Homo sapiens: one gene and its partner. The protein of the gene in region 1 purifies or fractionates together with the protein of each later gene. This does not show direct contact. Each region holds a gene or a part of one and is shown on either strand. Other genes may lie near its edges. The genes, in order: ZNF668 and ZNF512.

The links.
Region 2: the proteins of ZNF668 (region 1) and ZNF512 purify together in Homo sapiens (affinity purification with mass spectrometry; 2 studies listed by BioGRID and IntAct, with this or other methods). This does not show direct contact.

The regions. Positions count from the first base shown.
Region 1 is NC_000016.10:31,068,264-31,084,593, reverse strand, and holds the start of ZNF668 (zinc finger protein 668), read left to right. Parts: upstream 1-10,353; 5' UTR 10,354-10,935; intron 10,936-11,091; exon of another isoform or gene 11,092-11,907; intron 11,908-16,330. Other genes in the region: PRSS53 (serine protease 53), read left to right, coding at 1-36, 785-1,090; ZNF646 (zinc finger protein 646), read right to left, coding at 1,502-1,623, 2,893-8,269. UniProt on the Homo sapiens protein: May be involved in transcriptional regulation. May play a role in DNA repair process.
Region 2 is NC_000002.12:27,580,117-27,595,932, forward strand, and holds the start of ZNF512 (zinc finger protein 512), read left to right. Parts: upstream 1-2,925; 5' UTR 2,926-2,996; coding exon 2,997-3,026; intron 3,027-3,309; exon of another isoform or gene 3,310-3,410; intron 3,411-3,541; coding exon 3,542-3,600; intron 3,601-15,816. Other genes in the region: SPATA31H1 (spermatogenesis-associated protein 31H1), read left to right, coding at 1-2,411. UniProt on the Homo sapiens protein: May be involved in transcriptional regulation.

The DNA of each region.
Region 1 (16,330 bases):
TGTACCAGTGCTGTGGGTGAGCTGCCCAGCTGTGAGGTGAGCCCCAGGCCCCCACACCTTACCTAACAGGCCCCTGGCATCCCCTCACCCAATAGCTCAAGAACGGACCTTCCAGGCTTGGCCTCTGGACCCACCTCCCACCTGAAACTAAGCCTTTTTGCCAATTAGCCCCCAAACAGCCAGAGGTTCCCTAGCCTGCTCTACCGTCCTGCACAGCTGCCTATAAAAAGTCACCCAGTGTCACCTGACCCCTGACAGGGCCTGTCTGGGGCACCACTGGTGCATGAGGTGAGGGGCACATGGTTCCTGGCCGGGCTGCACAGCTTCGGAGATGCTTGCCAAGGCCCCGCCAGGCCGGCGGTCTTCACCGCGCTCCCTGCCTATGAGGACTGGGTCAGCAGTTTGGACTGGCAGGTCTACTTCGCCGAGGAACCAGAGCCCGAGGCTGAGCCTGGAAGCTGCCTGGCCAACATAAGTATGTGGCCCCGGGGCCTCCTGCCAAACCCTGCCTCTCCAGGACCCTTCTCTCTCCAGTGAGAACGTGCCGTTCTAACCCACTCCAGCTGCCTTGGGTAGGGTGGAGCAACAGGCAGACCCATTTGATTCAGATTCTGGTTCTTTGTCATCGTGTGACTTGGAGCAGGCTGCTCAACCGCTTTGAGCCTCAGTATTCTCATCTGTCATGGCGGCCAAGACAGACCCTGTTCCTTCGAGGAATGGGGAGGGAGGGAGGGACCAAAGCCGTGAGGATGAGGACAACTCCACCCTCCTTCCTTCCCCACAGGCCAACCAACCAGCTGCTGACAGGGGACCTGGCCATTCTCAGGACAAGAGAATGCAGGCAGGCAAATGGCATTACTGCCCCTGTCCTCCCCACCCTGTCATGTGTGATTCCAGGCACCAGGGCAGGCCCAGAAGCCCAGCAGCTGTGGGAAGGAACCTGCCTGGGGCCACAGGTGCCCACTCCCCACCCTGCAGGACAGGGGTGTCTGTGGACACTCCCACACCCAACTCTGCTACCAAGCAGGCGTCTCAGCTTTCCTCCTCCTTTACCCTTTCAGATACAATCACGCCAGCCACGTTGTTTTGAAAATTTCTTTTTTTGGGGGGCAGCAGTTTTCCTTTTTTTAAACTTAAATAAATTGTTACAAAATAGACTTTAGAAAATAAGTTACAAATTGTAGCAAAAGGCTCCCTTCCACAGGCAACTTTCCCACCGGTGGGGCTCTGCATCCGCCTCTCCCTGGTGTTGCAATCTGGCTGCTGAGGGTGGCGCTGAGAAGAGCACGGTGATGAGGCTGGGGGAAGGAGGTCCTTCAAGGACAGGGACGCGAGGAACACCCCACCCCCTCCTTGGGAAAGAAGCCAGATCTGGGTCCTCTTCACAAGGGGAGAGGAGAAGATATGGGGATGCCCGAACTACTCCTGAGAAAATGTGGAGATCAAGCCCCTCCCTGCACGCGCTCCCTCCCCCAGATTCTGATCTTTGGAGACTTGAAGTTCAGAGGGAGAAGCTGAGGTCTGCAGGCCACTGGGGTGAAGGATCCAGGAGTGGGGTCGTGGGGGTGGGTGGAGGGGGCAATGGCAAGTCCCCTCTGCCCGTCACTGGTGCCACTGGGGCTCCTGGGGGGAGAGAGAGAGGAGGTCACCAACTGAGGGGCAGACCCCGCACAGCGTGTACCCCCTCCCAGCCCTGCAGGCCATTCCCCTGCCCCTGGCCCCGGAGGCCCAGATGAGAACAGGGATTCTAGGCCTCCTAATTATTTTCCCAGCCCTGGCAAACTGGCTCCTCCCTCATATCCCTTGAGGTCATGAGAAATCTTCTATCCTTAAAGCCATTCCTTCAGCTTTCAGGTGACTCCCACCTGCCCTCTGCTCTGACAAGGCCTGTCAAGGGCCCACCATCTCAGGGCCACCCACCCTCGGTGGCCACTAGATGGAATGGGTCCGCCTCTACTAGGGGAGGTGGAGAGGCCAGCCCAGGTCCTGCTGAGGGAACCGGCCGCCCCACTCCCTGGCAGCTGCGGCTTCCAGCAGTGCTGGGTGGAGGCGATTCCCCACGGAGATGCCCTCTGATCAGGGATGTGACACGGGCTAATGACTGTTGTTGCTGCAGCTGGGCCTGGACTTCAAGGAAACAATTATCTGTGACTCAGTCCTCCAGTTAAAGGTGTGCAGAGGGTGGCAGGGTGCGCAGGTAGAAAGGGTGGTTTGGTTGGATCCTAAAAAGGCCGTTGGCAGCAGAGGGAAAAGGGGCTGAATAAAGGTTAGAGAAGAGATGGGAGCAACACTGACAGGGAAGGACCAGAGGTCTAGTTTCCAAGGAGAGGAGCAGCAGAGACAAGGCGCAGGGAAAGAGGGACAGGGAGTAGGGTGCCAACCAGTGAACCAGTTTCCGTGGCCAAGTCAGCAGGGAAGCCGTGGAGCCCATGCCCCATCCCTTGTTCCCTGGCACCCGGCCTGCTCCAGGAAAGAATGGAACCTAGACCAAACCAATGGCTTCCTCTTTTTCTCTGGAAGTCATTACTTTACTGGCTGACTCAGGAGGGTTTCCAGACACAGCAGCCAGGGGGTACCCAGTGACCTTCCCCTGAACAGAAAGACCATTCCATTCTGGCTACAGTGTAATGGAGGAGCCCAGGTAGCAGCCTCGGCCTGACCACGCCCCCACGTGCTGCCCAACCCACCCTGCTATTTGTTATACCTGACTTGCGGGTGCTCAGCTCAGCACATCCTCAAGCTACTTCTCTCACCCCATAGCCAAGCCCCCACCCACCTCTTAGAATCCCCGGGGCTCTCTCCTCTCACTCCTTGCTCCCCCACCGACTTTGGGGCTGGACTTCCCCCTCCACTGTGTGCCCACCTCCTCCTGGGACCCTTCATGCCCCCTACCGGAGCCGGCCACCGTCCACTCCTCCTGGTGCTGCTGCTGGTGCTGCACGAAGCTGATTCGGCGGCGGAAGTGGCGGGGACAATGGGGGCAGGTGAAAGGCCCCTCCCGGGGTGCATGGACCCGCCCGTGGCCCTCCAGCCGGGCAGCTGTCCGAAAGGCCTTGCCACAGATGCTGCAGCAGTGGCGCTTGGGGTCCGTGTGGGTCCTGCTGTGGTTCTTAAGAGACAGCAGGTTAGGGAGAAGTTTGGGACAGAGGGAGCACGGGTACAACCCTGTGGTGTGGGCCTTCTGGTGGTTCAGCAGGCTGCCAGCATGGCGGTAGGAGCGCCCGCACTGGGTGCAGCGGAAGGGCCGCTCCTTGTCCTCAGCCGCCATGGACGTCACCGCTTGTCCTCCCCTGGCTCTCTCCACACTCTCTCCTGGGCCTCTGGGGGTTTCTGATGGGGCCTCCTGGGCTTTCCCTTGACCAGGGAGAACCACCTGGTCCTCCCCAGTCCCGGCTTTGGGATCTCTGGCCTCCTCCATCTGGGCTGGCACCTGGCTGTGGCCCCGGGCATGAGCCTGCAGGTGGCTGGCCAGTTCCTGGTGGGACTCAAAGGCTTTGCCACAGTCAGGACAGGCAAAGGTCTGGGCGTCTATGTGGTTGTGGCTGTGGCTCTTTGTGGCCACAGGATTTAAGAACTCCTTGGAGCAGAGCAGGCAATAGTGTCGGTCTGTCTTGTTGGTGTTGTGGTTCAAGAGGCTGCCTGACTGGCAGTAAGTCTTGCCACACTGGCTGCAAGAGGAGTGGCTCCCTGGCTGCAGCTGAGAGCTGTTGTCTCTGTTGTCCCAGCTATCCATGTGACTCAGAGTAGGTCCATTGAGCTGGCAGTCACCAGCGTGGCAAGGACTCCTGTGGACACTGTCCTCTGGCTCCTCTGACCTAGTTAGGAACTGAGGAACCCAGCCTCCACTATGATTCCCCAGTCCCCCACCTACCGGCCACCCACCTGCCTTCCCTGCACCCCAGGACAGTGGCTCTGGGGCTTCTGAGCTTGCTGCCCTGATGGGGCTCTGACTGCGCTCCCCTGGCCTTGGGACTCCATCCTCCAAGTGGGGTACTGGCTCAGCACCACCCAATTGGGTCTCTAGTCCCTGGCTGCCAGTCAGGTTCGCCTCACTGGCCGCTGTGCCATCCAGGCCTCCCTGGCCATTGGCTGGCTCCCTTTCTGTCTCCTCATGCTCCCGCAGGTGCCGCTCCAAAGATCCCCGGCCAGGGAAGCTGCGGCCACAGAGGGCGCAACGCACAGCTGTGCGCCTGGACCGTCCAGCCCGTCGCCGCCGATTCTCTGAGTGCAGCCTCTGGTGGTCCTTCAGGGCCATGCGGTTGGAGTAGGTCTTGGGGCAGGTGGGGCAGCTGTACTGGCCCGTCTCGTGGCTGCGCCGGTGGTTCAGGAGGCTGCCGGCGTGGCGATAGGTCCGCCCGCACTGCCCACAGCGGAAGGGCCGATCTTCCCGAGTCGCCTTTCGGGTGCCCCCACCCCCACGCCGTTCCATGTGGACCCGCTGGTGGCTGGCCAGCTGTTTCCGCAGGCGGAAGGCCTTCCCACACTCGCTGCAGCGGAAACGTCGGGGATCTGCATGGATGCGCCGGTGGTTCTTGAGGGACATGAGGTTTGAGAAGCCCTTGGAGCAGGCCTGACAGCCAAAGTGGCCGGTCTGGTGGCTCTGCCGGTGGTTGATGAGGCTGCCGGCGTGCTTGTAGGATCGGCCACACACCTCGCAGCTGAAGGGCCGCTCAGAGCTGGCTTCAGTCTGGCAGCCCTTCTCGGCAGTCTCCAGCCTGGGCTCTATCTCCTCCCCCTTCACAGTGGTCTCCTCCCACACCTCTTCTTTCACCCTGGCCACTTCCTCCAGGGGCTCCACTTTAAGTTCTTCCTGGAGCTTCTCGACTTCTGCTTGCCCCGGCCCCTCCTCTGCCATGTGCTGGGGCTTGTTGCTGCCTCCTTCTGGGATGGGCCCAACCTGCAGCTCACTGCTACCTGCTGCCTCTGGGATGGGCCCAACCTGGGGCTCAGAGCCTTTGCAGCGAGGGTGGTTCCGCAGATGATTACGGTAGGCAGCCAGGTTGGGGTAGCAGCGGGAGCAGACAGGGCAGAGAAAGTCTCCAGTCTGGTGGATCTTGCGGTGGTTCACCAGGCTGCCCCCATGGCGATAGGTCTTGCCACACTGGTTGCAGCGGAAGGGGCGGGGCTGAGCCTCCAACAAACTTTCCCCACCCTGGATGCAGAGGCTGTCTCCCAAGGGGGTGCCTGCTCCCTCTTGAGACTTGGCATCTCCACCCTCTCCAGAGACAGAATTCACTATGTCCTCCAAGACACTGTCCACGACCATCTCCATGGCATCACCTGCCACTCCCAAGGGGCTGGGAGCCTTGTCTGCAGTAGTCCCAGAACTCTGACTTTGGTGGTGACGCTCCAGGCTCCCCAGGTCATCGTAGGTCTGACCACAGCAGCCACAGATGTGCCCATACCCTGCACTGTCCAGCGCTTCCACCTCCCGCTGCAGCTGATTCAGCAGCTCTGCTTCCGAGAGCTGCAGTGGTGGACTGCGTGCAGGGGCTGCCTCTGCCACTCCTTCCTCTTCCCCCTCCTCCTCTGAGCCCTCAGTCATGCCAGAGGAGCTGTGGGCCTGGCGCCGGTGAAGCCTGTAGCCAGCCCGCCCAGGGAAGATCATGCCACAGAGGCAGCAGAGGAAAGGCTGTGCTGAGGTCGCCTCCCCAGGCCTATGGTTCTGGAAGTGGCTGCGGAGGGCAGGCAGAGAGTCAAACTCCTTCGGGCAGAGGGAGCACTGATAGATGCCTGGTGGGTGGCAGGGCCTGTGGCTCAGCAGGCCAGTGGCATGGGGGAAAGAATGCCCACAGTCAGAGCATGTGTGAGCGGCCCCAGCCTGCCAGCCAGTGACAGCATTGGCAGAGTGGGAAGAGGAGTTGGGTTGGCCAGTGGCTGGCTTCTGGTCTTCATCCACCCCAGTGAGGCTATCGCAGAAGTGAGTGCCACCACCTTCCTCACCTGGGATGTCCAAGTTGTCAAGTAAACTGGCATCCTTCCTTTCCAGTCCTTCCCCAGTGCCTCCGCTCTCTTTATCACCCTGGAAATGGGTCTCATCCCTCTCAAGCCCACATTTGTCCCCTTCAGATTCAGCCTGCAAACAGTCCCCATCACTTTCCAGGTTGCCTTCAGCCCCATGAGGACTTTCCCCTGAAGGGTCTTGGGGAGACTCCAGGCCTTCATTGTCTTCTAGCTCCCGGGTCCAGCTCTCCGCTGCCAGGAGTTTGGCTTCTCTCCCACCGCTGGCACCGCCAGCCCGCTTCCGATGCCGCCTGCTCCGCCGCCGACTGTGCCGGCGCAAGTGGTTCTTCATGGCAGCCATGGTGTGGAAGTGCTTGGCACAGGCCCCACAACTGAAGTCTCCTGTCTGGTGGGTCTGCCTGTGGTTGATAAGGCTGCCTGAGTGGCGATAGCTCTTTCCACAGTCTCGGCAGGCAAAGGCCCTAGGAGGTGACATTGTGGTCTCTGTTCTGCTATTTTCCTTTTCCCCTGCCCCATGAGTCAGGCCATGACGTTCAAGGCTCTCAGCGTCTTCAAAGAGCAGCCCACAGATGCTACAGATATGTGCTGCTGTCTTGTCTGCTGCTGGGGTGATGTCCGTGGCCTCTTCTTCATGTTTGCACACATGGTCCTGATCTGTGTGCGGGGCTGCCTCTGCCTCCACTGGGTCAGGCGGGAGTTCTACCTTGAGGTGGCTGGGGGCACCCTCAGCCCCGATGTCTGCACTTCGGCGAGCAGCCTTGCAATGTACCCGCACGTGGTTGCGCAGGGCCATGAGATTGGGGTACTTGCGGGGACAGAGTGAGCACTGGTACTCTCCAGTCCGATGGCTGTGGCGATGGTTCACCAGGCTCCCCCGGTGGCGGTAAGCACGACCACACTCACTGCACTTATAGGGCCGATGGTCCAGGGTGGTGGTGGGGTCCTCTTCCTCTTTGTGGGTGGTCTCAGCCAGCAGCAGGGGAGCTGGTGGGACTGATGGCTGCCCATTTTCCCCAACTCCTTGCCTGGGCCTGTGATGAGCCCGCACATGGTTTTTGAGGGCAGCCGCATTGAACAGCTGCTTAGAACAGAGTGAGCAGGGGTAGACACCTGTCTGGTGGCTCTTTCGATGGTTGATGAGGCTCCCAGCATGGCGGTAAGTACGGCCACAGTCCCCACAGCGGAAAGGCCGGTATTCCTCCAGGCCACTGTCCTCCAGCTCCCCAGAGGTGCTGAGCTCCGCAGAGCCATTCAGCATCTGTGCACTGGGGAGCTGGTCCTGGCTGCTCTCATCTGTGTGCCCATTGGTGGTGGGCATCCCTTTCTCCTCCCAGCGTGGCTCCTGCCTTTCACCCTCATGGGACTGCTGGTGTTCCAGCAGCTCCCGGGGGAGCCGGAAGACACGGGGGCAGTGGGGACAGTGGTAAGGCCGATACTGGGCATGCAGTCGAGAGTGGTTCTTCAGAGCCATGAGGTTAGAGAACTCCTTGAAACAGATGGCACAGGGGTAGATGCCCAGCGTGTGGCTCTGGCGGTGGTTGGTGAGGCTCCCGGCGTGCTTGTAGGTCTTGCCACACTGACTACATTTGTACCGCCGCTCCTCCTCAGCAGGAGGGGACTGGGTGGGCTCCTGGCCCCCTGTGAAGTTCACTACTGATTCAGCCAGATACTGTTCCAAGTTGCTAAGAAGGCTGCTGGCTGGGATGGGGAGAGGAGGGGCTCTGGCAGAGTTAGTGGAGGGTCCCCAGCCGTCTGCACCATCCTCAGGACCTGGGTGGCTTGCCAAGCCTTCTCTTTGTCTGGTGGGCAGATCTTCCCACGTACCCGAAGCTGCCCTGGGGTCAGGTACAGATTCACAGTCAGGTGTCTCTTCTGTATGTTTTGTCTGGTTTTCCCAGCCTTCACTAGAGCCAAGCCTTTGGCCCCAGGAGTCAGTGGACACCGTCTCACCCTGGAGGTGTGGAGTGGCTTCCTTGGGGCGTGGGGGCCTGTGCCTGCGGCGGCCCTCAGGAGCATGTGTCCTCATATGGCTCTTGAGAGCCATGGGATTGGAGAAGTCCTTGCCACAGGTGGTACAGGGGAAAAGGCCAGTCTCGTGGGTCCGACGATGGTTAACCAGGCTCCCGGGGTGACGGTAGCCCCGCCCACACTGCTGACAACGGTAGGGCCGAGGGATGCTGTCAGCCTCCTCACTGTCCTGGTTGGGAGATGGATGGAGCAGTTCTCGGTGCCGAGAGAGCTCTGGGAGGCTGGGAAAGTGGCGCTGACAGTCGGAGCAGCTGAGTGAGGGGGGTGTGTCCTCCATGGGGCAACGTAGCAGAAACCTGGAGGTTCAGAAGGAGCAGACACGTGGCAGCACCTTCCTCTGGTGGAGGGGCCAAGGCCTAGGAAGAGGGGGCAGTGGTCAAAAGGAAGGCCTGAATTAACTTCGCCTCTTGGCTCTACGAGCAACAAGTTCACCTGAGGTCACTGAGAGGTTCCCCAAGCATCCATGCCCAAGGACCTAATTTCTACTAGATCCAATCTGCAGGCACCATCATTTAAGGCTTCCCTGTGCACAAGCTTCCCAAATATAGGAGCTCCCCTAGGCTTAAGTCATCCCTACAGGTATAGCTAAGGAAATTAAAGTTGAGAGAGATGCAACCTACTTCTGATCACAGACCTGTTATGTTCTTCAGACCAGACTCAAAAGGCATTACTGTCCTTTAAGAACAGTAGGAATCTGCTCCCTACAATCCTGAAACAAAAATTTTCTGTGACATCTTAAAAGGACACCAAAACCTTCTCTAGGCCTTTCAATAAGAGAAGTCCAAATCTTCCTACTTCATCTCTCAGCTAAACAGAGTAGCTGAGAAGCACTGAAAAAGCAGCTGTTTCCTCCAGTTAATAGCTGAGGACCTGAGAGGAGAGGTTAGAGGCCTCCTTCAGGGAAAGGGCTGGCTTGTTCCCCCACCACCCCGAGTCATTTCAGTGTCACAAGGTCTCTTTTCCTTGTGACAAGAGAGTTAAGAGAGTTAAGACTCTCTTAACTGGGCCAGGTGTGGTGGCTCACGCCTGTAATCCCAGCACTTTGGGAGGCCGAGGCTGGTGGATCACCTGAGTTCAGGAGTTCAAGACCAGCCTGGACAACATGGTGAAACCCTGTCTCTACTAAAAATACAAAAATTAGCCGGGCGTGGTGGTGGGCACCTGTAATTCTAGCTACTCAGGAGGCTGAGGCTGAAGAACTGCTTGAACCTGGGAGGTGGAGGTTGCAGTGAGCTGAGATCCCACCACAGCACTCCAGCCTGGGTGACAGAGCGAGACTCCATCTCAAAAAAACAAAAAACCCCAAAAGACTCTCTTAGCGACTTCTTTTATCTACTTCCCTTGAACTCAAACTATCTTCCATCTTGGGAATAACATCAATACCAGGTTGTAATGTCACTTCATTGCCTACCTTTTCTCTCCCATGCCTCCTGATCTTACCCTCACCAGTCTTTCTCATTTTTTTCTTCTGCCTCCTCTCTTAATACTGATGATGACAGCAACTCATGAAGAGTATTATATTACCATGTGCCAGGCACTGTGCTAACTATATTCATTGTGTTACTCAATCCTCAGAACACACGGCAATGCCTGTTATTCTAGTTCACGTAACAGCAAACCCCCTGACTGAGGCGGTCTTCATCCCAAAGCCCTTGCTCTCTCATGCCCCCTACATCGTCTTGTCCTTCTCCAACTCTGACTCTTCTTCCCATGGGACCCCAGTACAACTGTCTCCGACCGTAAACCCCTTCACTGAACCTGCCCCCGGAATTCTCACCTCACAAAGCCCCTTTGATCAAAAGTCCCCTCCCCTAGTCAACCACCAATGAAGTCCTCTGACCTCACTCATCTCGTCTGCCAATTTCCTCTCAGGACGCCTACCTCGCACCGGCGGCCCCCTCTCCTTCCCGCCGCGGGCGCGTCAGTTGGGGACCGCGAACAAGAGCGCGCCTGCGCACTGGGACCCTTACCCTAACTGCAGCCGCGCGCCCCAAGGGGTGGCTGTCGGGGGGCTCTCGCGCTCCCACACACGCACACTCAGCCAGGGTTCCCGGGAGGTGGGAGGGAAGGGAAAGAGGGAAAGGAGAAGGGGGGAAGAGGAAGGAGGTAGAGAAAAGAGGGCGCAGCTGGCATGAGCCAGGAGTCTACTCCCAGCTCTACGGACACTTCCTATTGTTACTAGGAAACAGGAAGTGTCCTTAGGTGCAAAAGCTTCCCCGCGAAACTTCCGCTTCGGGAGCACTGCCTGTCCCGCCTCCGAGCCGCAGTTTTACGCAGACACACTTCCGGCGCTAAGTTCTAGGTCTGCACGGCTGACTCCGCCCACGTAGGTCACAACGCGGCGTCTTTGCACGCTAAGCTAGCCACACTTCCGGCAAGAGCAGCTAGAATCGTTCCGGTGCATATTGAATAGGCGCAGAAAGGGAGAAAAAGATTCTACAGCCCTGGCCACAGTACTTTGGTGACACTTTTCGTGGGGCTCTCTGGAGGACTTTTCCCAAGGCAGATGGAGAAAACTTCGTGAAACCCACTCCTTGCTATTAAAGGAAATGTTGTGGAATATAATTGGACTTAGGTTTTGCAGAGCTTGAGCATGGCCTTTTTGTCCTCCCACCTTCTGGTTCTTGAAGACATTGCCGGTGACCTGGCCCCAGACTAACACAAGGCGGGCGTATACCGTCAGCCTGCCTGGCGTCCCCTTGCCTCAGCACACACAGAGACCTCTTGCAAGATGCTTCTCTGCCGCCATAGGCTGGAGGTTCCCCGGGAACTTTCCCTTCCTTCCTAGCTGAGGAAGATCCCTCACTTCCGCTCGCCGCGCCACCGGTCCCACCTCCCCGCCCCCCGCTGGGTCCTAGCGCCGGCCCCTGTTTGGCAGGGTCCGGGCTCCGTCGGTGCGAGGAGCCGACGCCGACGCCACGGAGTCAGCACAAGTCTCATCAGGTAGGAAACGTCGGCGGGAAGCCGCGAGGGCCCCGGGCAGCTCCCACGCGGCCACGATCCGAGCTGGCCTCAGTTTCCCTGCGGGCGCCGAGGGCGGGCCGGGTTGGCCCAGCGCGAGCAGCGCGGGCGGGGCGGGCTGTGAGCGGCCCCGGGCGCATTGCGGGCCCAGCAGGTCCTAGAACCCGCCGGCTGTCTCCGCGGTTCTGGGCTGCGGACACCCAGGCTCGGCCCGCGCGGCTGCTGGCCCGGCGCGGTGTGGTCCCGGGGGTCCTAGAGCCCGCCATGTTTTGGGTTTTTGTCCCGGTCGCGTGGCCCGCGCTGCAAGATCCCAGGCGCCGGCGGCCCCCTCCCCTGCTGAGGCCCGGCCACCACTCCCGCGGTCCTAGAGAACGCCATCTTGCAAGCCTTTGTCCCTCATTCGGCCTTCCGTCCATTCATTTGTTCATCTCCTCATCCTTCGTTCAGTCCTCCTTGCCACGTCCTCCGAAGCCACGTTTTCTGAGGCTTATAACCGGGGTCCTGCCCTCCAGGGGCTGCCTGGCTGGCGGGGGCGCCGCGTACAGACGGTTGCGAGGAGCGAGGAGCTCCGGGTTTCTGCAACTCTCGGCTCCTCGGCGCGCTTCGTAGGCCCCACCGCCCTTCAAACTCCCACAAACTTAAGGGACCCCATTTTACTGATGAGGAAACTGAGGTCCAGAGCGGCGTGGGGCCCTTACCTCTCTACTGCCATAAAGTATTCCTGAGGGCACTAGGGAAGGGGGTTCTTGAAGGATGTAAAGGGGCTTTCCCGTTGGAGAAGGCAGGCAAGGGCTCCCCGAGCCCAGGAAACTGCATCTAGAGGTGGAGGATTGAGAATTGTGGCTGGAGGTTCGGTCGCTGCCGGGAGGAGGACTCTGTCGCTGGAGCTGAGGCTGGAAAAGTAGGTTGGGATCAGGTTGTGAACTGGCCCGGTAGGAGGCCTAGGATATGATTAGCGCTCACTTCTGCAGGGTTCATCCGCTCACTACGTCACTCCTGGCCGTGAGGCCTGTGTGGTGACTGCTTGTTTAGAGATGGGAAGATTGAGGTGCCTCCTTTTTCTCCTCATCCCTGCCCCAGGGTCCTAGCCTAGGATTTTTGGAAATTGAATCTTTGCTTGCCTAGTGAGACAGCAGAACTTCATCCCCTTCCTAAGCCAGTAGTGAGGCAAAGCAAGGCTTCATCGCCACGACAGGGAGCCCACTGTGGGATATTGGGGCAATAGTTGAGCCTTGTGGAGTTGGAAAGGTGGAGGAATTTAGTTAATAAACAGTTATTGGTGGACATTCTCACAAACTCCTACTGTGGAGGAGGCAGAGGCTACAGACCTGGGTTCAAATTTCATCTGAGGTTGGTTCTTTCCATTTGTTTTGGGTCACCACACAGGGTTCTGGGTGTAGAGGAGGCAGATGATCGGTTTCCTAGCCCTTTGCCAGCCTGGACTCTGGTGCTGGTGATGAAGAATTAACAGCCAAACCATAAGATGTGTAATGCTAGCAAAGCAATAGTCAGGGCTCAGAGAGCAGGTGTTTGGGATTTGAACACTGGCTGGGACCGTGACTAGTAAGCTTGTTTCTTTGTGGTGTCACTTCTCATAAGAACGCTAATCCTACTGGACCAGGGCCATACCCTTATGACGTCATTCAGCCTTAATTACTTCCATAAAGGCCTTGTCTCCAAATACAGTCACAATGAGAGTTAGAATTTCAATATATGAATGGACAGGGAACACAAACATTCACTCATAATGAACTGCTAGGCAGCTGTGCAGTTGGCTTGAGTAGTTGAGTATTATGCACAAAATGCTTAGAATGATACCTTGCCCATGGTAAGCTTGCAAGGAGTATTGTCCAGATGACACCATAAAGGAAATTAGAGAGGAGGGGTGCTGGTCACTGTGGCTCATGCCTGTAATCACAGCACTTTAGGAAGCCATAGTGGAGGAGCATCTGAAGCCAGGAGTTCTTGAGACCACTGTCGGCAGCGTAGTGAGACCTCCATCTCTATATACAAAGAATTTTTAATAAATTAGCGAGGTGTGGTGGTGGGTGCCTATAGTCCTAGCTACTCAGGAGGATTGCTTGAGTGCAGGAGTTTGAGGCTGAAGTGAGCTATGATTGAGCCACTGCACTCCAGGGTGACAGAGTGAGACCCAATCTCTAAATAAAAATAAAGGCCAGGCACGGTGGCTCACGCCTGTAATCCCAGCACTTTGGGAGGCTGAGGCGGTCGGATCACTTGAGGTCAGGAGTTCGAGACCAGCGTGGCCAATGTGGTGAAACCCTGTCTCTACTAAAAATACAAAAGTTTGCCAGGTGTGATGGCTTTCGCCTGTAGTCCCAGCTACTCGGGAGGCTGAGGCTGGAGAATCACTTGAATCCGGGAGGTGGAGGCTGCAGTGAGCTGAGATGCAGCCACTGCACTCCAGCCTGGGCAACAAAGACTTTCTCTCAAAGAAAATAAATAAATAAAAATGAAATAAATAGGCCGGGCATGGTGGCTCAAGCCTGTAATCCCAGCACTTTGGGAGGCCAAGGTGGGTGGATCACCTGAGGTCAGGAGTTCCAGACCAGCCTAGCCAACATGGCCATCTCTACTAAAAATACAAAAAATTAGCTGGCTGTGGTGGCAGGCACCTGTAATCCCAAATACTTGGGAGGCTGAGGCAGAAGAATTGCTTGAACCCAGGAGGCAGAGGTCGCAGTGAACTGACATCACACCATTGCACTCCAGCCTGGGCAACAGAGGGAGACTCTGTCTCAAATAATAATAACAATAAATAATAAAATAAATAAAAATAAGCCAGGCACGGTGGCTCATGCCTGTAATCCCAGCACTCTGGGAAGCCGAGGCAGTGGATCATCTGAGGTCAGGAGTTCGAGACCAGCCTGGCCAACATGGTGAAACTCCATCTCTACTAAAAATACAAAAAATTAACCAGGCGTGGTGGTGGATGCCTGTAATTCCAGCTACTCGGGAGGCTGAGGCAGGAAAATCTCGTGAACCGGGGAGGCGGAGGTTGGAGTGAGCAGAGATGGTGCCATTGCACTCCAGCCTTGGCAACAAGAGTGAAACTCTGTCTCAAAAATAAATATATAAATAAAAATAAAAACATTTTTTAAAAAGTAAAGAGGGCTGGGTGCGGTGGCTCATGCCTGTAATCCAAGCACTTTGGGAAGCCAAGGTGGGTGGATCACTTGAGGTCAGGAGTTCAAGACCAGCCTGGCCAACATGGTGAAATCCTCTCTCTACTAAAAATACAAAAATGAGCCAGATGTAGTGGCGGGCGCCTATAATTCCAGCTACTCGGGAAGCTGAGGCAGGAGAACCGCTTGAACCCGGGAGGCGGAGGTTGCAGTGAGCAGATATTGTGCCATTGCACTCCAGCCTGGGGGACAGAGTAAGACTCCGTCTCAAAAAAAGGGCCGGGCGCGGTGGCTCACACCTGTAATCCCAGCACTCTGGGAGGCCGAGGCGGGCGGATCACGAGGTCAATAGATCGAGACCATCCTGGCCAACATGGTGAAACCCCATCTCTACTAAAAATACAAAAATTAGCCGGGATTGGGCCGGGTGCAGTGGCTCACGCCTGTAATCCCAGCACTCTGGGAGGCCGAGGCAGGTGGATCACGAGGTCAGGAGATTGAGACCATCCTGGCTAACACAGTGAGACCCTGTCTCTACTAAAAATACAAAAAATTAGCCGGGCGTGGTGGCGGGCACCTGTAGTCCCAGCTACTCAGGAGGCTAAGGCAGGAGAATGGCATGAACCCGGGAGGCGGAGCTTGCAGTGAGCCAGGATTGTGCCACTGCACTCCAGCCTGGGTGACGGAGTGAGACTCCGTCTCAAAAAAAAAAAAAAAAAAAAAATAGCCGGGCGTGGTGGCGGGCACCTGTAGTCCCAGCTACTTAGGAGGCTGAGGCAGGAGAACTGCTTGATAGATAATCATGAGATTCCGTCAAAAAATAATAATAATAATAAAGAGTAGATAGAGAATGATTATCAGGGGTAAAGATAGCATTGAGAAAGGTAGTCATTCAGTGCTCCTTGGTTGGTTAAAAAAGGAAAAAATTTGGAATATTAAAAGGGGGGAAGAAAAGGAAAGGTGGTCAAGAAAGCTCTTTTTGAGGAGGTGACTGGGAGCTGAGATCCAAATAACACCAAAAAAGACAGCTACACAAAGATCGTGGGAGAAGAGTGGCTCAGACAGAGGGAACTGCTAGTGCCACTGCCCTGAGGTGGGAAGGAATTTAGCTCTTTGAGGAGAAGAAAGGAGGCCTCTGTGGGTAGAGCCCAGTGGGCCAGGGAGAGGAGTGGGAGGTGAGGTAGGCAGGTGTGTGTGTGTGTGTGTGTGTGTGTGTGTGTGTGTGTATTTTTAGTAGAGATGGGGTTTCACCATGTTGGCCAGGCTGGTCTCAAACTCCTGGCCTCAAGTGATCTGCCCAGGTAGGCAGGATTTAGATGGTTTGGGGCTATGCTGGCCATGGAAAAGATATTGGTCTTTTTCCTGGGAGCAGTGGGAAGTCTCATGATTCAACCTGGGGGAGAGAATGGAGACTTGGGTTCGAGTCTGGCTCCTTGACCAGCTGTGTGTCCTTGTGTACAGTTTTTCCTTTGTGGGGACCTTAATCTCAATATCTGAAAAAGAGGTGTAGTGAACACTTAAAATGCTCCTCTCCTGAGAGCTCGTGGAGACCTAAGGATGTGTGTTTGGTTCTTAAGTATTGGTTGGGCAGGCACGGTGGCTCACGCCTGTAATCCCAGCACTTTGGGAGGCTGCGGTGGGAGGATCACTTGAGCCCAGGAGTTCTAGACCAGCCCAGGCAACATAGCAAGACTTCATCTCTACTAAAAATAAAATAAAAATTAGCCAGGCATGATGGTGCATGCCTGTAGTCCCAGCTACTTGGGAGGCTGAAGTGGGAGGATTGCTTGAGTCTGGGAAGTCAAGGCTGCAGTAAGCCATGACTGCACCACTGCACTCCAGCCTGAGCGACAGAGTGAGATCTTGTTTCAAAACCAAACAAACAAAAGTATTGGCTGGAATGATCCAGAGTGTATTTAAAATACAGATTCCTGAGGCCTACCTCAAGCTCTTTAATAAAAAAAAAAAAAAAAGTCTGGGCGTGGTGGCTCTCGCCTGTAATCCCAGCACTTTGGGAGGCCGAGGCGGTCGGATCACGAGGTCAGGAGATTGAGACCATCCTGGCTAACACAGTGAAACCCCGTCTCTACTAAAAATACAAAAAACTAGCCAGGTGTGGTGGCAGGTGCCTGTAGTCCCAGCTACTCAGGAGGCGGAGGTTGCAGTGAACCAAGATCGCGCCACTGCACTCCAGCCTGGGCAACAGAGTAAGACTCCATCTCAAAAATTAT
Region 2 (15,816 bases), on another chromosome or scaffold:
GTGAAAGAGATAGACCCGTCATACGGAGAAGCCCTATATCACCATCACAAAGGAAAGCTAAAATCTATACTCAAGCTTCCAAGAGTCCTACTTCCACAATAGATTTGCAGTCTGGGCCTTCCCAGTCCCCTGCTCCTGTACAAGTCTACATCAGGCGAGGACAACGCAGCAGGCCTGACTTAGTAGAAAAGACAAAAACTAGAGCACCTGGGCACTATGAATTCACTCAAGTTCACAACCTACCAGAGAGTGACTCTGAAAGCACTCAGAATGAAAAACGGGCTAAAGTGAGAACCAAAAAGACCTCTGATTCAAAATATCCAATGAAGAGAATCACCAAGCGACTTAGAAAACACAGAAAGTTCTACACAAACAGTAGAACCACAATAGAGAGTCCTTCTAGGGAATTAGCAGCCCATTTAAGAAGGAAGAGGATTGGAGCAACTCAGACAAGTACTGCCTCTTTAAAAAGACAACCTAAGAAACCTTCCCAACCCAAGTTCATGCAACTGCTTTTTCAGAGCCTAAAGCGGGCATTCCAAACAGCACACAGAGTTATAGCTTCTGTTGGGCGGAAGCCTGTGGACGGGACAAGGCCAGACAATTTGTGGGCAAGCAAAAACTATTATCCAAAACAAAATGCCAGGGACTATTGCTTACCAAGCAGTATCAAAAGAGACAAGAGGTCAGCTGACAAGCTAACGCCAGCAGGCTCAACCATTAAGCAGGAGGACATATTGTGGGGAGGAACGGTCCAGTGCAGATCAGCTCAACAGCCAAGAAGAGCTTACTCTTTCCAACCCAGACCTCTTCGACTGCCCAAGCCCACAGATTCCCAAAGTGGTATTGCTTTCCAAACTGCCTCAGTGGGGCAGCCTCTGAGAACTGTTCAAAAGGACAGTAGTAGCAGATCAAAGAAAAACTTCTATAGAAATGAAACCTCCAGCCAGGAGTCTAAGAACTTGTCCACACCAGGAACCAGAGTTCAGGCCCGAGGAAGAATCCTACCTGGTTCCCCTGTGAAGAGAACCTGGCACCGACATCTTAAAGACAAACTCACACACAAGGAGCATAACCACCCCAGCTTCTATAGGGAGAGAACCCCACGCGGTCCTTCTGAGAGAACCCGTCATAACCCCTCTTGGAGAAACCATCGCAGTCCCTCTGAGAGAAGCCAACGCAGTTCCTTGGAGAGAAGACATCACAGTCCCTCTCAGAGGAGCCACTGCAGTCCCTCTAGGAAAAACCATTCCAGTCCTTCTGAGAGAAGCTGGCGCAGTCCGTCTCAGAGAAATCACTGCAGTCCCCCCGAGAGGAGCTGTCACAGTCTCTCTGAAAGGGGCCTTCACAGTCCCTCTCAGAGGAGCCATCGCGGTCCCTCTCAGAGAAGACATCACAGTCCCTCAGAGAGAAGCCATCGCAGTCCCTCAGAGAGAAGCCATCGCAGTTCCTCTGAGAGAAGACATCGCAGTCCCTCCCAGAGGAGCCATCGCGGTCCCTCAGAGAGAAGCCATTGCAGTCCCTCTGAGAGAAGACATCGCAGTCCCTCTCAGAGGAGCCATCGTGGTCCCTCTGAGAGAAGACATCACAGTCCCTCTAAGAGAAGCCATCGCAGTCCCGCTCGGAGGAGCCATCGCAGTCCCTCAGAGAGAAGCCATCACAGTCCCTCTGAGAGAAGCCATCACAGTCCCTCTGAGAGAAGACATCACAGTCCCTCTGAGAGAAGCCATTGCAGTCCCTCTGAGAGAAGCCATTGCAGTCCCTCTGAGAGAAGACATCGCAGTCCCTCTGAGAGAAGACATCACAGTCCCTCAGAGAAAAGCCATCACAGTCCCTCTGAGAGAAGCCATCACAGTCCCTCTGAGAGAAGACGTCACAGTCCCTTGGAGAGGAGCCGTCACAGTCTCTTGGAGAGGAGCCATCGCAGTCCCTCTGAGAGGAGATCTCACAGGTCCTTTGAGAGGAGCCATCGTAGGATTTCTGAGAGAAGTCACAGTCCCTCAGAGAAGAGCCACCTCAGTCCCTTGGAAAGAAGCCGTTGCAGTCCCTCTGAGAGGAGAGGACACAGTTCCTCTGGGAAAACCTGTCACAGTCCCTCTGAGAGAAGCCATCGCAGTCCCTCCGGGATGAGGCAAGGGAGGACCTCTGAGAGGAGCCATCGCAGTTCCTGTGAGAGAACCCGTCACAGTCCCTCTGAGATGAGGCCAGGGAGGCCCTCTGGGAGGAACCATTGCAGTCCCTCTGAGAGGAGCCGACGCAGTCCCCTTAAGGAGGGACTCAAGTACAGTTTCCCTGGAGAGAGGCCCAGCCATAGTTTGTCTAGAGATTTCAAGAATCAAACAACTCTCCTCGGGACCACACATAAAAATCCCAAAGCAGGGCAAGTGTGGAGGCCTGAAGCTACTCGATGAGGCGAGGTCCGCCCCTATTATTCATTGTCCTAAGTCTTCATCGTGCTGCCCTTTCCAGGCTTCTTTCCTGCTCAGCCACTGCCTCCAATTCCTGCGCCCCCAGCGTGGAAAGGCTTCCATTTCTCTCTACCGGGGGGGAGGCGGGTGAGAATGGGTCTGTAATTTCTCTAAGATGAATAAAGGGGCAGTAAATGATCTTCCTGTGCATCTGGACTGAGACCACTGGGCGGGTGGATGGGGAAGGCAGGCTGGAGGGACACGAGGAGTTGTGCAAAGATTCGGAATGAGAGCCAGGGGTTTTGAGGCCCAGCCGAGGCTCCAAGCTCCGCCCCTTCACTCCAGACCCCACCCATAGGTTCCCGGGTCCCGCGTCGCGATCCCAGTGGGGCGGGGTCTCAGAGGAATCGGAGGGTGACTCATCACGTGACTCGCTCCGGCCGCAGCCCCCTCGGAAGCTGCTAGGCGGAAGTAGAAGTTCAGAAGAGGGCTAGGCGGAGCCGAGCCCACATCCGGGAGAGGAGAGCGGAAGTGGCGTTGGTCTGGCCGGAGCCCTTGGGTGAAATTGTTAGGCGTGGAGAGGGAGTGATGTCTTCCAGACTCGGTGCTGTACCCGCCGTGAGTTTCTTGGTTTGACCGTTATGCTTTAGAGGTAGCGCTGTCGAGCCCGGAACACGCGGTCCCTCGCTTTTGTCCCATGCTGAGTTGGTTTTATCAGAGGCCATCGTAGGCCCCACCCTTCTAGATCAGATCACCTGTCCCTTTTTCTTTACCCACGTTCTGCTGCCTGTTCCCCACCTCCTTGGATTTAATTCCTCGCCACATTACCATTAGTTTCTATTCCTTTTACATCCCCAATGTCTCTCATATCCGTTGTCTTTTCTTTTGGCCTCCCTTTTAGAGCCTGGGACAGGGCTTTGAGAATGGGGGAAGACGAAGGCTCTGGTATTGTTACCCGCCTTTGCACTGCTGGAAGATAGGACAGCATATTTTTCCTAAAAGGTGTTGCCTTCTTGTGTTTGAGGTGGTTTCCCCGGGAGAACTTCATTTCTTCTGGGCATAGGGGAATTCGTCTTTTTGTGGTCGAGGTTCAGAGGTCCCTAGCACTCACTCGTGTGCTTGTGATTTGCTAGACTTCGGGACCCACAACCTTTAAGCAGCAGAGGAGCACGAGGATCGTGGGAGCTAAGAAGTAAGTGAGGTTTTCTAAGGTCCTTTTATGATTGTGTCACCAGCGCTGACCAGTAGAACTTCTTCCTGTGATGAAAATGTTCTGTATCTGCATTGTCCAGTATCATAGCCACTAACCCGGTGTGGATTTTGAGCAGTTGAAATGTGGCTAGTGCAACTGAGGGACTGAATTTTAAATTTTATTTGCCAAGTGAGTGAGGTTTTTCTAAGGTTCTTTTGTGATTTTGTGGCCAGCGCTGTCCAGTGGAACTTCTTGTGACGAAAATGTTCTGTATCTGCACTGTCTAGTATCATAGCTACTAGCCCCGTACGCCTTTTGAGCGCTTGAAATGTGGCTAGTGCGACTGAGGGATTGAATTTTAAATTTTATTTAATTTTAACTAACGTTAAATAGCCACCTGTAGCTCGTGGCTATCGGATTGGACAGTGTAGGTCTAAGTCTAGTGTGTGGGAGAAAAACCTAGCTTGCAAAAAAAAAGTACAAATTGTAATAAAAATGGAACCAAAGACTCAGTGGTAATTCTGTATTTCTCCAGACATGAAATTCGTGCTCATAAATACACTGATGAACTTGGGATGGATGATAAAAATGGCCGTAAGAAATCCTTGTATTTTTAAACTACTTGTCTGTAAGACTGGTTTATTATTTAGTACACTGAAGGTGCTTAGTTTTTCCATGGTTAATACAAAAGAAAACATTCTTGTTAACTAGACATTAAATGGATTCATTCATTCAGGTGACATTTACTACATGTTTGCTGTGCGCCAGTTCTGTAGTAGGTTAGGAATACAGGCATGAAAAACAACTAGCAGTCTAGAAGGGGAGATAGGCAAGTAGGTCAACACAGTTCATTGTAATAAGTAAGTATTTTTAAGTAGGAATTTAATTTAGCCTTTGAGGAAGGGGAGTGATAGTTTGGAAGGGAAGGATTATCAGAGCAGGTCACTCCTAAGTAGAAACTTGAAAGTTGAGGAATCATGCAGTTAGTGAGAAGGAGAAAGGTTTTTCAGAACAGAGAACAGCATGTGAACGTGTGGAAAGAGTTAATGGGATAGTAAGTAGTTCTGTATGTCTGGGATAGAGGATGAGGGATTGCAGGGAGAGCGTTTAGAGAGGTTAGTAGGGGCTAGACCATGGAGGACCTGTTACGGCATGCTAAAGTGTTTGGATTTTATCCTGGAAGAGATAATGAGGGAATGACATAGCCAGATATTGGTCTTAGGCCACTCTGGCAGCATTATGAAGGATGGATTTGGAAGGGTACTGGGAAACTGGTTCAGAGGTTATTATGATAACCTAAGAGATGAATAAAGAACATGTAGCCTATGGTGGGAACAATATACAGGGAATACGTAGGGAACAACGTATAGGGAATGTACAGGTGGTGATGATGAGAAGTGAGTAAGAGAAGGAAGATAGGATGTCTATGGGTTTCTGGCTTTGGCCATCAGGTGAATTTTGGAGTAATTCACAGAACTACAAATTTCTGAATGAGGAGCAACATTTGGAACAAAAACAAATAGGTTTGGACCTCAGATGAAGAGCTGGTCTGAAATACAGAATTGGGAATTATCAGCTATAAAAAATAATTGGAAACATGATGTTTTCTTCCACAAGCTGAGAGTTTTAATGAGCTCTTCTAGTTAAAGTGGTTAGAGCAATGTTTCTCAGTATGTACCTTGGTCACCTAGAGATAATTGTTAAAAAATAAGATTATTAGGCCCCCATCCATTAACCAGATTTGGAATCATTGGGTTTAGGGCATAGAAATCTTTACTTTTAACTAGCTTCCTAGGAGATTGTGACATTTGAGAGTCAATGGTGAGAAGTGAGACCAGAGAAGAGTAGAGGAGGAAATCATGGAGAACACTAGCTTTTAAAGATTGGGTAGAATTAAATAAGTTTACAAAGGATACCGAGATGAACTAAAGTACTTTTCTAATGAAATCTAAATATTTGCACATGGAAGAATGAGCTAGGGGCTCTTAAAAATTTTTGGTAGATCAGAAAGGAGTTGAAAATAGGCTAAACTTTTTATGTTTGTGATCAGAAGCTGAGAGTTGCCACACTGGTGGCAACAAATTATAAAATAAATGCAATTATGATAGTCATTGTATCACAACAAAGCTTTTTCTTGTTATATGTATGGAAAGGGAAGTTTGAGCTTAATCTGGTTTTTTTTACAAATAATCAAATGTCCTGGGGTTGATGGGTAGATATTGTAAAATACTTGAGAATTGTTTTTGTTGAGTGCTTTAAAAATAAAACATGAGACCTGGAGGAGGGATTCCCTAACCACCTTGATTTAATCTCCAAGAGTTAATTATGATCATATGAACTGTTGCCTTTTCAGTATGCTTATGCTTATTCATAAGAGGGTATATGGGTACTGTATTTCTGAGTCCTACACTGATAGTAAGAAATTCCTACATGGAGAGTTTCCTAAGAGTTATTACATGGGACTCAGCTCTTAATGGCCTGTTGGTACCATCAAGTCTTTGTTGTTGTTGTTGTTGTTGTTGTTGTTGTTGGAGATGGAGTCTTGCTCTGTCGCCTAGGCTGGAGTGCAGTGGCATGATCTCGGCTCACCACAACCTCCACCTCCTGGGTTCAAGCAATTCTCCTGCCTCAGCCTCCCGAGTAGCTGGGATTACAGGTGCACACCGCTGTGCCCTGCTAAGTTTTTGTATTTTAGTAGAGAAGGGGTTTCACAGTGTTGCCCAGGCTGGTCTTGAACTCCTGAGCTCAGGCAGTTCGCCCATCTTGGCCTTCCAAAGTGCTAGGATTACAGGCATGAGCCACTGCGCCTGTCCCATCAAGTGTTTCTAGCATTGTTTGGGATGGTAGGTTTTGGCCTTAGAGGCCTGCCAGTCCATTAATTTTTAAAAATACCTTTATTGAGGTATAATTAGAGTACAATAGACTGCACATATTTAAAGCGTACACTATGGTCAGCTTTGACGTATGTCTGTACCCGTGAAACCATTGCCACAATCAAGATAATAAACATTTTCATCTCTCTCAAAAGTTTGTTCATGTCTCTGCCATTTCTTCCTCCACTCCTGTCCACGGGCACCACTGTACAGTGGTTTGCATATTCTAGGATTTTATATAAATGAAGTCACACAGTATGTTCTCATTTTTTTCATGATTTCTTTCACTCAGAATAATGATTTTGAGATGACAAATAGTTTTTATTGCTGGGTAGAATTCCATTATGGATACCATAATTTGTTTAGCCATCTATCTTGATTGACATTTGAGTTATTTTCAGTTTTAGGGTGTCAAACAATAAGGCTGCTGTGAACGTTCATGTACAAGTCTTGTGTGGACAAATGCTTTCATTTCTTTTGATAAATATCTAAGATGGTATTTACCATCCTAGGTTGGTTGATTCATATGGCAGGAGTATGTTTAGCTTTTTAGGAAACTACCTGCTTTCCAAAGTGGTATTATTTTGCATTCCTACCAGCAATGTATGAGTCAGTCTTTTCAATTTTAGCTAATTTAATGGGTGTGTAGTGGTATCTCACTGTGGTTTTAATTCATGGGTTTTTTTTTTTTTTTTTTCTTTTTTTGAGACAGTGTCTCCCTCTGTCACCCAGGCTGGAGTGCAGTGGCCTGATCCTGGCTCACCGAACCCTTTGCCTCCCAGGTTTAACTGATTCTTCTGCCTTAGCCTCCTGAGTAGCTGGGATTACCGGTGTGCATCACCACGCCTGACTAATTTTGGTATTTTTAGTAGAGATGGGATTTCACCATGTTGGCCAGGCTGGTCTCGAACTCCTGACCTTAAGTGTTCTGCCCACCTTGGCCTCCCAAAGTGCTGGGATTACATGCTTGAGCCACCACACCTGGCCTAATTTGTGGTTTTTAATTCATCATATATGAATAATAATGTTGAGCATCTGTTCGTATTCTTTCTTTTTTTGATCTTTTTTTTTTTGCATCTGTTCATATTCTTTTTTATTTTATTTTTTTTGAGACAGAGTTTCACTCTTGTTGCCCAGGCTGGAGTGCAATGGTGCAATCTCGGCTCACTGCAACCTCCGCCTCCCAGATTCAAGCTATTCTTCTGCTCACCCTCCGGAGTAGCTGGGATTACAGGCATGTGCCGCCACGCCTGGCTAATTTTATATTTTTAGTAGAGACGGGGTTTCTCCATGTTGGTCAGGCTGGTCTCGAACTCCCAACCTCAGGTGATCTGCCCACCTTTGCCTCCCAAAGTGCTGGGATTAACGGTGTGAGCCACCGCGCCCAGCCTTCATCTGTTCCTATTCTTATTGGCCATTTGTGTGTCTACTTTTGTAAAATGTTTACATTTTTGTCCATTAAAAAAAGTGGGTTATCTTATTGAATTGTGGTATTTAAAAAAATCTGTCCTGAATACAACTCGTTTGTCTGTTATACTTCCTTCCAGTCTGGTTTGTCTTTCATTTTCTTAATGATGTCTTTTGAAGAGCAAAAGGTTTAAATTTATCATTTTTTTCTTACATTTCATGCTTTTATGTATCCTATTTAAGAAACCTTTGCCTCCCTGGAGGTCGTAGCGAGTCAAGGTGGTGCCACTGCACTCCAGCCTGGGCGACAGAGCGAGATTCCGTCTTAAGAAATAATAATAATTAAAAAAAAGAAACTTTTGCCTCCCTAATTGCAGAGATTTTCTGTGGTCTTTTCTCCTAGAAGTTTTATAGGTTTTATATTTAGGTCTGTGACTCATTTAGAGTTAATTTCTGTGAATGTTTTATGGTAAGGGTCAATGTTGACTTTTTTTTCTATTTATATACCCAGTTGTTGGAAAGAGTTTTCTTTCCCTACTGAATTGCCTTGGCATCTTTGTCAAACTTCACTTGGACATGTATATGTGTAGGTCTGTTTCTGGACTCTCCTTATTCTGTTCTACTGATGTTTATTTAGACTCTTGAAATCAGTAAGTCCTCTAACTTTAGTGTTCTTTTTCAAAATTGTTTTGGTTATTCTCAGTTCTTTGCGTTTTTATAAGAAGTATAGAATTGGGTTGCCAATATCTATTAAAAGAAGCTTGCTGAGTATTGATTGGTATTATATTGAATCTATAGATTCCGTTGGGGAAAATTGCTATTTTAACAATATTGAGTTTTCTGATTTATGAACATGCTATATTTTCCCCTTTAAGTCTTCTTAATTACTCTCAGCAATGTGTTGTAGTTTCATTGTTTTTAAAAGTCTGGAACGTCTTTTGTTAGGTTTGTTCCCAGGTATATTATGTTTTACTGATGTAATTGTAAATGGTATTATTTTTATAATGTCATTTTCTAGTTGATTGTTGCTAGTATATAAGTATTCAGTTGACTTTGTATGTTATCCTTGTATCCTGACACTTTATAAATTAATTTATTAGTTCTAGTAATTGTTTTGTAGATTCCTTGGGATTTATTTTGTAAACAATCATATAATCTGCAAGTAGGGACAGTTTTGCTTTTTTCCTTTTGATCTTGTTTTAAACCTATTGCAATGGCATTCAGCAGTGAAACTACATGGGCCTGTAGTTTTCACTGTGGGAAGGATTTCATAAATTCAGTTTATTTAATAGATATAGGGCTACTTAGATTTCCAGTTTCTTCTTGTGTCAGTTTTGGTAAGTAGTATTTTTAAAGAAATTTGTTCATTGTAATTTTTCCATTGATTAGCATAAAGTTATTCAAAGTATATTATTACTTAATGTCTACATAATCTGCGGTAACCCCTTTTTCATTTGTGATATTGGCTATTTGTAGTGTCTTTTTTTGTAGATCAGTCTAAGTCTAGCTACAGGGTTGTCAATTTTGTGATCATTTCAAAGAACCACATTTCCCCTATTGTCTGTTTTCTAGTTCATGGGTTTCTCCTCTTACCTTACCTTTTCTTTGGTTTACTTTGCTTTTCCTTTTAAGGTATCTTAAGATGAAATCTTAAGTCATTGATTTTAGATCGTTTCTAGTATAAGCATTTAAAGCTTTAAGTTTCTAAGTATTGCTTTAGTTGCATCCTACAAATGTTGATATGCATATTTTTGTTGTTTTTCAGTGCAAAATATTTTCAAATTTCATTTGTGATTTCATTTTGGACCTATGAATTATTTAGAAGTAGATTATTTAATTTGCAGATATTTGGATTTTTTGTGTTTTTTGTTTTTAGATATCTTCCTATTATTGACTCCTAAGTTGATACCAATGTGGTCAGAGAATACACTGTGTAATTCTCATCCTTTTAATAAAAGTTAAAGTTGATGGCCCAGCGTAAGATCTAGCTTAATGAATGCATAATGTGCACTTGAAAAGAATATATATCCTGCAGTTGTTAGATGTAGTGTTGTGTAAATGTTAACTAGAGCAAGGTGGCTAATAGTGCAGTTCAGATCATTTATGTCTTTTACTGAATTTTTATCTAGTTCTATCAGTTGCTGAAAGGGGGAGGTCTTAAATTTTCTGCTAAGATTGTGGAATTGTCTATTTTTCCCTTTAATTTTGTCAGTTTTCGCTTTGTGTATTTTGAGGCTCTATTATTAGGCACATACAGTGGGTAATTATGCCTTCCCAATGATTTGACACTTTTGTCATTATGAAGTGTCTCTTTTTATCTCTGGCAGTACTCTTTGTCTTGAAGTCTGTTTTATCTGATATTAAAATAGTCATTCCAGCCTTATGTTTGCTGATTGTATGATACAATTTTTTCATCTGTTTATTTTCAATCTATAGATGTCTTTATATTTTAGAGTGTGCTTCTTGTAGGTAGCATGTAGTAGGGTATCACTTTTTATTTTACTCTGTCATTTGCTGACTTTTAACTGGAGTGTTTAGACTGTAAACATTTAAATTAATTATTGATATGGTTGGATAGGTCTGCCCTTTTATTTTTTGTTCTCTGTTTATCCATTGTTTTTTGTTCCTGTGTTTCTTCTTTTGGATTATTTGAATGCTTAGTGTCTGCCCCTACTCTTGTTTTTTTAAGAGACAGTGTCTTGCTCTGTTGCCCAGGCTGGAGTTGGTGGCACATTCATTGCTTGCTGGGCTGAAGTGATCCTCCCACCTCAGCCTCCCAAGTAGCTGAGATTACAGAGGTGTGAGCCATCTACCCCGGCCTGTTTACCATTTCTGTTGCTCTTTCTTCATTCTTAAAAATCCAAGTTTCTCTCTGGTATTATTTTTCTTCAGCTGGAATCATTTGTTTTAGCATTTCATATGGAGCAGGTCTGCTTACAATGAATTCTCTTAGTTTTATTTCTTAGGATATTTTCACTGAATATAGAATTCTGAGTTGACAAATTTTTTCTCTCAAAATTTTAAAGATATTTCTTTTTCCTTTTCTTTTTTCTTTTTAGAGACAGGGTCTCACTCTGTTGCCAAGGCTGAAGCGCAGTGGTGCGGTCATAGCTCACTGAAGCCTCAAATTCCTCAGCTCAAGGGATCCTCTCACTTTAGCCTCCCAAGTAGCTGGGACTATAGTTGCATGGCACCACACCTGGATAATTGCTTTAAAATTTTTTTATTTTTATTTTTGTGGGTACATAGTAAGGATATATATTTATGTGGTACATGAGATGTTTTGATACAGGCATACAATGTGAAATCACATCATGGGGAATGGGATATCCATCCCCTCAAGCATTTATCCTTTGTGTTATAGACAATCCAATTACACTCTTTTAGTTATTTAAAAATGTACAATTAAGTTCTTAAAATTATTATTATTATTATTTTGAGACAGAGTCTCGCTCTGTCACCAGGCTGGAGCACAGTGGTGTATCTTGGCTCACTGCAACCTCCGCCTCCCGGGTTCAAGCATTTCTCCTGCCTCAGCCTCCCGAGTAGCTGGGACTACAGGCGCATGCTACCACGCCCAGCTTTTGTATTTTTAGTAGAGATGGGGTTTCACCATGTTGGCCAGGATGGTCTTGATCTCTTGCCCTTGTGATCTGCCCACCTCGGCCTCCCAAAGTGTCGGGATTACAGGCGCGAGTCACCGCGCCCAGCCTTAAAATTATTTTTTGTAGAGACAAGGTCTTGCTATGTTGCCCAGGCTGGTCTTGAACTCATGGGCTCAGTCCCCCTGCCTTGGCCTCCCAAAGTACTGGGATTACAAATGTGAGCCATTACACTGGTTCGATTTTAAAGATACTGTACTGCCTTGTGGCATTCTTGGTTTCTGTTGAGAAACCCATGGTCATTTAAATCATTTCCTGTAATGTAATATGTCACTTTTCTGAAGCTTTCTAGTTTAAAACAAAATCTTTGGCTTTGAATAGTTTCTTATTTATTTAAACAATTTTTTTGAGACAGAGCCTAACTCCCGTTGCCCAGGCTGGAATGCAGTGGCGCAACCTCTGCTCACTGCAGCCTCATCCTCCTGGGCTCAGGTGATTCTCCCACTTCAGCCTGCTGAGTAGCTGGGACTACAGGTGCACACCACCACACCTGGCTAATTTTTTGTATTTTTAATAGAGGTAGGATTTTGCCATGTTGCCCAGGCTGTTCTTGAATTCCTGGGCTCAAGGGATCTGCCTGCCTCAGCCTCCTAAAGTGCTGGGATTACAGGCTTGAGCCATTGCACCCAGCTTAGTTTTTTTATTTATTTATTTATTTTTATTTTTTTTTTGAGATGGAGTCTCGCTCTGTAGCCCAGGGCAGCTGGAGTGCAGTGGCATGATCTCGGCTCACTGCATCCTCCACCTCCCAGATTCAAGTGATTCTCCTGTCTCAGCCTCCCAAGTAGCTGGGACTACAGGCACCCGCTACCACACCCAGCTAATTTTTGTATTTTAGTAGAGGTGGGGTTTCACAATATTGGCCAGGCTGGTCTCCAACTCCTGACCTCAAGTGATCTGCCTGCCTTGGCCTCCCAAAGTGCTGGGATTACAGGTGTGAGCCACCATGCCTGGCCTAGTTTATTTTTTATTGAGTTAAAGTATACCCATATAATTTACCATGTTTACCTTTTTTTTTTTTTTTTTTTTTTTTTTTTTTGTTTGAGACAGAGTTTCGCTCTTGTTGCCCAGGCTGGAGTGCAAATGGCGCGATCTTGGCTCACCACAACCTCTGCCTCCCAGGTGCAAGCGATTCTTCTGCTTCAGCCTACTGAGTAGCTGGGATTATAGGCATGTGCCACCATGCCCAGCTAATTTTGTATTTTTAGTAGTGACGGGGTTTCTCCATGTTGGTCAAGCTGGTCGTGAACTCCTGACCTCAGGTGATCCACCTGCCTCAGCCTCCCAAAGTGCTGGGATTACAGGCGTGAGCCACCACGCCTGGCTGATACATTTATATTCTTTTTCTTTTTTTCCTCTCTTCACTCCCTCATGTCTCCCCTCCCCTTCCTGGCTGAATAGTTTCGTTAAGATGTGTCTTGGTTGGGTACCGTGGCTCATGCCTGTAATCCCAGCAGTTTGGGAGGCTGAGGTAGGAAGATTGCTTGAGCCCAGGAGTTTGATACCAGCCTGGACAACAAAGTGAGACCCTGTCTCTACACACACACACACACACACACACACACACACACACACACACACACACACAAAAGAATGAGCTGGGTACCGTGGCACACACTTGTGGTCTCAGCTACTCAGGAGGCTGAGGTGGGAGGATTGTTTAAGCCTGGGAGGTGGAGGCTGTGCTTGAGCCACTACACTCCAGCCTGAGTGACAGAGTGAGACCTTGTCTCAAAAAAAAAAAAAAAAAAAGTGCTTTGGACCAGCCTGGGCAACATAGCAAGACCCTGTCTCTATGAAAAAACACAAAAATTTAGTGGGTATGATGGTGTGCACCTGTGGTTCCAGCTACTCGGGTATGGTGAGGTGAGAGGATCACTTGAGCCAGAGAGGTCCAAGCTGCAGTGAGCCATGTGCCACTGCACTCTGGCCTGGAGAACAGAACAAGACTGTGTTTCAAAACAAAACAAAAAGATGTATCTTGGTATGTTTTTCTTTGAGTTATCCTATTTGGTGTTTGTTGAGCTCCTTGAATCTGTAAATTTATATCTGACCAAACGTGGGGGATTTTCCACCTTTTTTTTTTCAAATGTATTTTTCTGCCTTAGTATCTTTCTTTCTTTCTTTTTTTTTTTTTCCATTTAACCCTGAGTTGACACAGCACATGTTTCAGAGAGCACAGGGTTGGGGGTAAGGTTATAGATCAACAGCATCCCAAGGCAGAAGAATTTTTCTTAGTACAGAACAAAATGGAGTCTCCTATGTCTACTTCTTTCTACACAGACACAGTAACAATCTGATCTCTCTTTCTTTTCTCCACATTTCCCCCTTTTCTTTTCGACAAAACCGCCATCATCATCATGGCCCATTCTCAATGGTCACTGTCTCTTCGGAGCTGTTGGGTACACCTGCAGAAAGGCTGTCACTTCACACTTGGAAGATTGCACAGCGGCCAGTCAGAGGTGCTCCTCACTTCCCAGACAGGGTGGCGGCCGGGCAGAGGCGCTCCTCACATCCCAGATGGGGCGGCCAGGCAGAGGCACTCCTCACCTCCCGGACAGGGCGGCCGGGCAGAGGCGCTCCTCACATCCCAGACGGGGTGGTGGCCGGGCAGAGGCACTCCTCAGTTCGCAGACGGGGTGGCAGCCGGGCAGAGGCGCTCCTCACCTCCTAAACGGGGTGGCGGCCGGGCGGAGGCGCTCCTCACCTCCCAGAAGGGGTGGCGGCCGGGCAGAGACGCTCCTCACCTCCCAGACGGGGTGGCGGCTGGGCAGAGACGCTCCTCACCTCCCAGACGGGGTGGCGGCCGGGCAGAGGTGCTCCTCACCTCCCAGACAGGGCGGCCGGGCAGAGGCGCTCCTCACTTCCCAGACAGGGCGGCCGGGCAGAGGCGCTGGTCACATCCCAGATGATGGGCGGCCAGGCAGAGACGCTCCTCACTTCCTAGACGGGGTGGCGGCCGGGCAGAGGCGCTCCTCACTTCCCAGACGGGGCGGCCGGGCAGAGGGTCTCCTCCCATCCCAGATGATGGGCAGCCAGGCAGAGACGCTCCTCACTTCCTAGATGGGGTGGCGGCCGGGCAGAGGCTGTAGTCTTAGCACTTTGGGAGGCCAAGGCAGGCGGCTGGGAGGTGGAGGTTGTAGCGAGCCGAGATCACGCCACTGCACTCCAGCCTGGGCAACATTGAGCATTGAGTGAGCAAGACTCCGTCTGCAATCCCAGCACCTCGGGAGGCGGAGGCGAGCAGATCACTCGAGGTCAGGAGCTGGAGACCAGCCTGGTCAACACGGCGAAACCCCGTCTCCACCAAAAATACAAAAACCAGTCAGGCGTGGCGGCGCGTGCCTGCAATCCCAGGCATTGGGCAGGCCCAGGCAGGAGAATCAGGGGAGCCCGAGGTAGGGAGGTTGTAGCTAGGTGAGATCACGGCAGTATGGTCCAGCCTTGGCAACAGAGGGAGACCGAAGAAGGGAGAGGGAGGAGAGCGGGGAGAGGGAGAGCGAGAGCTGCATTAGTATCTTTCGCCTCTCCCTCTGGGATTACAACTACACTTAAGTTAAAACGTTTGGTATTAGGGTTTTGTTGAATGTTTTTCAATCTTTTTTTCTCTTTGTTCTTCAGACTGGTTTTTTTTCTTTTCTTTTCTTTTTTTTTTTTTTTGAGATGGAGTCTCGCACTGTCGCCCAGGCTGGAGTGCAGTGGTGCGATCTCTGCTCACTGCAGCGGCGCGATCTCTGCTCATTGCAGCCTCCGCCTCCCAGGTTCAAGCGATTCTCCTGCCTCAGCCTGCCGAGTAGCTGAGATTACAGGCACCCACCACCAGGCCTGGCTAATTCTTTTGTATTTTTAGTAGAGACGGGGTTTCACTATGCTGATCAGGCTGGTCTCGAACTCCTGACCTTGTGATCCGCCTGCCTCGGCCTCCCAAAGTGCTGGATTACAGGCGTGAGCCACTGTGCCCGGTGGAGACTGGGTCATTTCTATTGAACGGTCTTCAAGTTCACAGACTCTTTCCTCTGTCATCTCCATTCTATTACTGAACCTATCTGATGAGTTTTTATTTCAGATGTTGTATTTTTCAGTTCTAAGATTTCATTTGGTTCTTTTTTATGGTTTCTTTTTCTGCTGATGATTCCCACCTTTTCCTTCATTTCTTGTGTGTTTTCTTTATAAGAAAGTATTTCTTTTTTGTTGACAGTATTTGATAGTCCCAAAATCTGGATCACCTTGTGGCTGGCATGTTTTGGTCATTTGTTCCTTTGAAAATTGCTCAC